Homo sapiens: one gene and its partner. The protein of the gene in region 2 purifies or fractionates together with the protein of the main gene of each other region. This does not show direct contact. Each region holds a gene or a part of one and is shown on either strand. Other genes may lie near its edges.

What was found. Proteins that work in one complex are often made in the same cells at the same time.
Region 1: the proteins of PAIP1 (region 2) and RBM45 purify together in Homo sapiens (affinity purification with mass spectrometry; 2 studies listed by BioGRID and IntAct, with this or other methods). This does not show direct contact.

Annotation. Positions count from the first base shown.
Region 1 is NC_000002.12:178,115,437-178,118,936, forward strand, and holds part of RBM45 (RNA-binding protein 45), read left to right. Parts: intron 1-825; coding exon 826-948; intron 949-2,618; coding exon 2,619-2,745; intron 2,746-3,500. UniProt on the Homo sapiens protein: RNA-binding protein with binding specificity for poly(C). May play an important role in neural development.
Region 2 is NC_000005.10:43,550,578-43,554,077, reverse strand, and holds part of PAIP1 (polyadenylate-binding protein-interacting protein 1), read left to right. Parts: intron 1-3,500. UniProt on the Homo sapiens protein: Acts as a coactivator in the regulation of translation initiation of poly(A)-containing mRNAs. Its stimulatory activity on translation is mediated via its action on PABPC1. Competes with PAIP2 for binding to PABPC1.

The DNA of each region.
Region 1 (3,500 bases), on a different chromosome or scaffold from region 2:
TTATTACTGATATCAGCCACAAGACTCTAGTGGGCCATTTCCATGTTACTCAATAGTTGTACTCATATGGTGCTTGACATATAGTATAGATTTATTGAAGGAATAACTAGAAGTAGACTATAAAGGGATATGTCTCTAACACTGTGGTTTTCTTGGTTGCTGCTTCCTACTGTGGAATTTCATAAGTTCCAGTTTTCTCATGCTTTAATGATACAGAGCCCCCTTTACCAGCAGTGGATCAGAGACCAAGATATAGAGACCCCTTTAAAGGAAAAAGAAACAAACAATGCAAGTGCCCTTGTTTATGGTGTTTTAATTAATTGTATTACGTTTCTTCAAATTACTCTGGCTAAAAATAAATGCAAAAGTAGAAATACATTTGGGAAAAACACAATGCAGAGATTGGTATTATCTCATAAAAAAAAGTCATTGCAGGCCCAGCACAGTGGCTCACACCTGTAATCCCAGCACTTTGGAAGGTCAAAGTGGGAGGATCACTTGAGCCCAGGAATTCATGACCATCCTGGACAACATAGCAAGACCTTGTCTCTACAAATATTAAAAAATTAGCTGGGTGTGGTGGTGTGTGCCTGTGGTCCCAGCTACTTGGGAGGCTGAGGTGGGAGGATCACTTGAGCCTAGAATGTTGAGACTGCCGTGAGCCATGATCACACCACTGCACTGCAGCCTGCTTTTTTTTTTCTTTGAGACCCTGTCTCAAAGATTAAAAAAAAGTCATTGCAAGAATAATTGCTTTTGAAAAAATTTAAGAAATGGGAAAATAGTTGACATTATTTTATTTTGGGAGTTTTGTTTGTTTCTTAGGTTTTCATTGCTCAGTCCCGATCATCTGGAAGTCACCGAGATGTTGAAGATGAAGAACTTACAAGAATCTTTGTTATGATACCAAAGTCCTACACAGAAGAAGATCTGCGGGAAAAATTTAAGGTATTTATTCTAATCAGCTAGCATATGTGATAACTCATAGTCCTGCATAGGTTGTATGGGTACTAAATCTGAAATGTTGTTGGAATAAGGTCAATAGAGTAGTCTTGGGGAATTACATAACTGCTTTCATCAATTTCAATCTACTCTTTAAATATTAAACCTAGCATAAATTAGTTTTTAAAATTAAAGAATATATAAAAGCTGGAAAATAGTAATGGTAGTCTCTCCCTACTTTATTGTGAAAGTAGAGATTCGCAGAAATGAAGCATAAAGCTCAGAAACTTTTAAGTAAAGTCACACAACTAGTAGGTGGTAGAGCTATGATTTAAACCCAGGCTGTCGGAGTCTGGAGCCTGCTCTTGGTCTTTAAAATTTCAAAGCACGCTTTTATCACTCCCCTCTATTGCCTGGCATGTAGAGGCGAATCAGGCAGACCTGAGTGTGTGAACTGTATTATCTAGTATTGAGAACGGGCCTATGGTGTGTTGACATGGTACTCATTCACAGAAAGGCTTATTCTTTGAAGAGTTTTTGTCCTAAAATTGGGCCTTTGAAGGAATTATATTTAAAGAAGAAAACGTAAATATAGCTCTGACCTATATAAGTGAAATTTGAGGATAATTTTATGTCTTTTTAGCCATTAACTTATGCAGTGATGAGCTTTCACACAAATTATTAAAAAGCAATTTTTTAATTGTTTTGAATTGTAGTTTTTTATCTTTTTTCTACTAATCCTCCCATGAATTGGGTGGCAACAAGCAAGAAAGAAAACAAGCAGTAAAAAGTAATTTTCAAACTTTCTCTCCTACCCCAATTGAGAATTCAATGAAATACTTCAAAAATAACAAATACCAAAAACGTATATTTTATACATCCTCCAGTAGTAAGGAAAATGTTTTTTACCTTAAATATTTATAAATTTTTCTTTTCCTGAATGAACAAATATAACACTTTAATGTATAGTAATTAAGTTGCTAATTGATTACATAAGAATTTATAAAATAAATAATAAATACCAATTATATTCCATATTTCTTTGAACATTGAAAGTAAACACTACTGCATGTTTCTCAGAATAGTAACTTTCTGAGTGAACCAGCATATTTTAGAAATACCCTTTGAAAAGCACTCCTTCAAAAGAATACACAATCATTTATGTTCCTGTTAGAAGACAGACAAGTAATAATAGCTAATGTTCTTTGAGTATGTTCCAAGCCCCATGTAAGCACTTCACATGTTTTACTTCAGTTAACCCTTAAACAACCCTGTGAGGTAGATACTACTGCTAGCCTCTTTAATAAAGAGGTAGGCACAGAGAGAATAAGTAAACTGCCTAATTAATGAGTGGTTGATTCAGGATTTCAATCTAGAAAGTTTAATTCCAGAGCTCTGGCTCTTAACCACTGTTGAGCAAGACTTTGGAGCTATCCAGACCATGTACAAATTCTTACTCTTCTGTGACTTTGTCCCTCTTTGATTTCTCTAAAGCCCAGCTTCCTTATCTATGAAATAAGCATATTTGCAAATACAAATATGCAATATCTGCATATTTTATACTGCCTATTTCTTTGTTTGCATGCAAGGGTCACATATAAACAAATTTTTAGTTCTGAAATACTCTGTTCAATTAATTTTAAGTCCCCTAAAATCATGTCTTTTAACTCTCTTAGGTGTATGGAGATATCGAGTATTGCAGCATTATTAAGAATAAAGTGACTGGAGAAAGTAAAGGTTTGGGCTACGTACGATACTTAAAACCATCACAAGCTGCCCAAGCAATAGAAAACTGTGATCGAAGTAAGGATGTGTTTAACATTGTTAAAAACTTTTGTAAAAAATTCTGATTATTCTAAATAGCTGAATTTAATATTAGTTTTTGCTAATAACTGTATCTGCTAATGTAATTTTAGCAGTGGGTATTTAAATATTTACAGTCCAAGGAAGAAAAATATTTTGGGGTTATGATTAAACATTCATTGAGGCACTATCTTGAAGAAATAAGAGCAACTACATTAACTTAGTAAGTGAAATGCATACTTTGGGTATTATTTTTATAGGTTTTTAGGGTTTTTTAAGTGTATTTTAGAATTTTAAGTATTAAAAACTTGACTTACCTTTTCAAGGTTTTTAAAATATTCTTTATATTTGTTTATATTTGATCTACATCCCAAAGACTATAAAGTATAACTAATAAACCTATAGGTTAAGGGTAAGATTTATAAGATGTGCTAACATAGGTAACTGATATAGATAGGGTTAATTTCAAGCTAGAGTGACATGAATGTGATCTTCTGATGTTGCTGTATATATAAAGAATAAGAATTTTAAAGATGTCAAAGAGAATATTCTTTGTTGGTATACTTCTAGTTAGGTATATTGACCTTTAGAAATGATATGTAGAGTAATTAAATTACTGGATTTTAGGACATTATAAAAATATATACTTACTGGAAAGAATTACTGTTAATCAGTAGAATTCTTAGATACCCCTAAGGTACATACCCAGATTTTCTCTTAGATCCTTCTAAATTTCTCATTTAGCTAGCAGTAAT
Region 2 (3,500 bases):
ATAGATCAGCACCTCCTGTGCTCAATTTACCAAAACAGATTGCAGCCTGGCACCTGGAAACCTGTGTGGCCTGCAGGTGTCTTCTCTAGCCCTGAATGGGTTTGTTTTTTCTTTAAGTTGTTTTATTTAATTAACCAATACCTAAATTAGATATTAGAAACTTGAATGTTCTGGTTTGTCATAAAATCTGGCCTTAGTGGACTGGCATTTTGATACAGCAAAAATTGGTTGGAGCTGAGTAGAGGCATTCTCTTTAGATGGAGTCTGTGAGCTCTAATTTGCTTTCTGGCTTATTTCATTCATTTGTAATCTACCTGAATTCTACAGGCATTCAGGCTTACTACCCCTGTTCTGGTATATTCTCTAGCCTTACTGGTTTACCCTAATCTTTACCCATAGTTAAGGCTAAGAGAGTTTTTCTCAATCCAATTAGTCATAGAACAGCAGGATCCTTTTTTCCCCCGACTCTTAGGATAAGCTCTTGTTGCAAAGGAAACATTTCCTTTTAGTAGCCATAATCCAAAGTTAGCTACATTCACTCATTCAACAAATAGTCAAGTACTTATCATGAGTCAAGCACCGGTGATACAGCAACAAACAAAATGGACAGAAATTCCTGTCTTCATGGAGTCTCTATTCTAGTAGTCTCCTGGCTCAGTTTGCAGACATTTATTGAATCTGCTTTTGTTCTACACATGAAAATCTATTTCCTGGTATCCTTTTTCTAACAGCCTTTATGGTAGTCTTCTGCTGTGCTTTCTTAACTCTTTCAAGGCACCAAGCCCTTTTATCTTCAGTTCTTCCTCTAATCCTGCTGCTAGAATTTCCTACTTTCCATGTCTTCTTACCAGTGAGTTGCTATATCCATTTATCCCTGGCCATTATTTCTTCTCAGACAAACCATTATGCCTTGAATATTTGTCACAGTTCACTTACCAGAGCCAAAAATTTAACATAGGAATTCATAAAGCATTGATGAAGAGACAGAAGTCCCCTTCCTCCCCTGCAAAAAAACGAGCTTTTTTTCTAAGAGAATCCCTCTTCAAGTTACTTCCCAGTTTTTGTTCTGCCTTGCAGTAGTATCATTCTCCAATAGGTAAAATTATTCACTGTCTCTCACTGTTCAGACCTCTGCAGTCTGATCTCCCTAATTGTATTGATACTATTTTTGTGACTGATGTTCTTCCGATTTTTAAATTTATCTTCCTAAATCTCATTTTAAAACTTTGAGCACTGTAGGATCTATTCAGTTTATAAATCCCCATGTGCCAGGTCCTGTGCTAGGTGCAAAGGTACCTTTTTAGTCTATCAGAAGCTCCCTCCCATTGTTTTAAGAACTAAGTATTTGAGGTACTAGTTTTGTTCTTTTTTCTCTCTGAGTATAATCTCCTTCACTCCCGAGACTCTGCAATGATAATTCTCTTCCAGATTTCAACCTATGAATTTATTCTGTAGCATTTGTTGTTATGAGCATCTCTTCTCCCCTACCTCTTTGGCTTCTGTGGCAGTACTTTATCCTCCCAACTTGCAGATCATTCCTTTTCCCCTCAGATGACAGTTGGTGACGTTCTTTCTTCCATTTTATTACCTCCTTTGCTAATCCCGCCTATTCCATAGAATCTATCACTTATTTATGTGCTAATAACCCTGACATCTAATTATTCCTTTGAACTCTAGTGAACTCTAGGCATACATTTTCATTTATTTGACCACTTCTTGAGGACCTCACATTCAAATGCAAGTATAAAATCTATACACAGTGTAAGAATTATTTATCTCATGCGAATCTCTTCTAACTAGCTGCTTACACTAAGAACTTGGTGGCATATTGACTCACCTCTCCTGCACACCCTTGCCTTAATTCAATCCAGCTAGCTAAAGTAGTCGTGACTATATTCACTCTCTGTAGTGTCTGATCAGTTTTCTTTTATTCCCACGGTTCTGTAATAGGTTCTCATCTCTTGACAATGTATATAGAGTACCTACCATGAAAAAGTACATTTTCTATTTCTCCCAATCTCCCATAGAATTCTAAGAAAAATAAAACTTGAAAATATCTCTGTTTGGAAGCCATTTGACTCCACATTGAAGACTGAAGAAATTTGTGGCTTTAAAAAATCTGGTGCTAGAGAAGTAATGCAGGCTTTGATTCAAACACGTTGGAGTGCCTGTCTGTTCCAAATACTCTATGCCTCCTTTTTTTGCTTAAAATGGCAGGCTCTGGATCCTCTGTTCTGCTATATTCAGAGCAGTTCTACTTTCTTCTTTTACTGATCAGATTTTACATTTTCTTAAAAGAGAGTTCTGTTGACTTTAAAAAAAAAAAAAAAAAGATTGCAAATCAGCGCTCTAAGCAGCATTTTTGCCACGAAGAATGACATTTGATGGAAACAGGAAATTAGTACTTTCAGCTGGGACCCGTACCTTTGCCTTTCTGCTGTTCCTTGTCATTAATAGTGGTAGGATACTACAAGTCTGTAAAACTAGTAACTGTATATCAAAAACTTAAGACTAGTTTTTAGTTATAAAATTCACGCATGTATGTAGTTAACATTAAGTATATGAATGTGTACAATTATGCCTAACTGCTTTCACAACTTTATAATGTCAATATTTATAATGGGAACATTTTCTCACTCTAGAGGTAAGTACTGTTGTCTCTTGTTTTCTTAAATGGCTATAATATTCCATTATACAGATATATGATAATGTATTTAACCAATTCCTTGTTAATGGATTGTTACGTGGATTTTTTGGCAATGAACATCTTTGTACATAAAATTGGGTTTTAAGCTTTTGTCCTTTATTTTGAGTTTCACAGAGAGGTTAAAAATATAGGCTTTGTTCTGCGCTCAGTTCTTCTAATCAGTTTTGTGACCATGCACAGTCACTTAAGTTGGTGCATGGTCCTTCCTTGTTCAAACCCTCTTTCCCCCATCCTGTTTTTCCTACTTCCTTAAGAGCCAGTTTCCTTAATTTGGCCCCCAAAGCCCTCTAAGATCTCCTTATCTGCCTCATTGACCTCATTAGTTACCACCCATCCTCAGTTTCTGTATTCTAGTTATTGTCTTTTTCAAAGTTATTAGGCCTCCTTGGGGCCTGTGTGCTTCTTGTGCCCATAGAAAGAGAATATCTTTCCTTAGATATTTGTATGGCTGGATCTTTTTTTCTTTCTTAGTTTATATATTAACTCTAAGAATCTCTACTTGGCTTTTTGCTTTTTTTTTTTTTTTTTTTTTTGTAGTATATTTCAACTTCTGAATGTGTCTTCCATCATGGGGTATGAGCTCCATGAGAGGAGAGCCTTGTCTGCTTTATTCATGGCAGATATTCATGTCATGGCAGTATCCCATCCCCTAAGACAGTCTTTGGCACTTAGTAGGTACTCAGCAGCCACACCATTTTGAATGAATAACCAAAGTGACTTAACTACTCTGTGCCTGTTTCTTCTATGCAGGGAGGATAGTGATGCTTACCTCAAAATGTTCTAGGTTAAACAA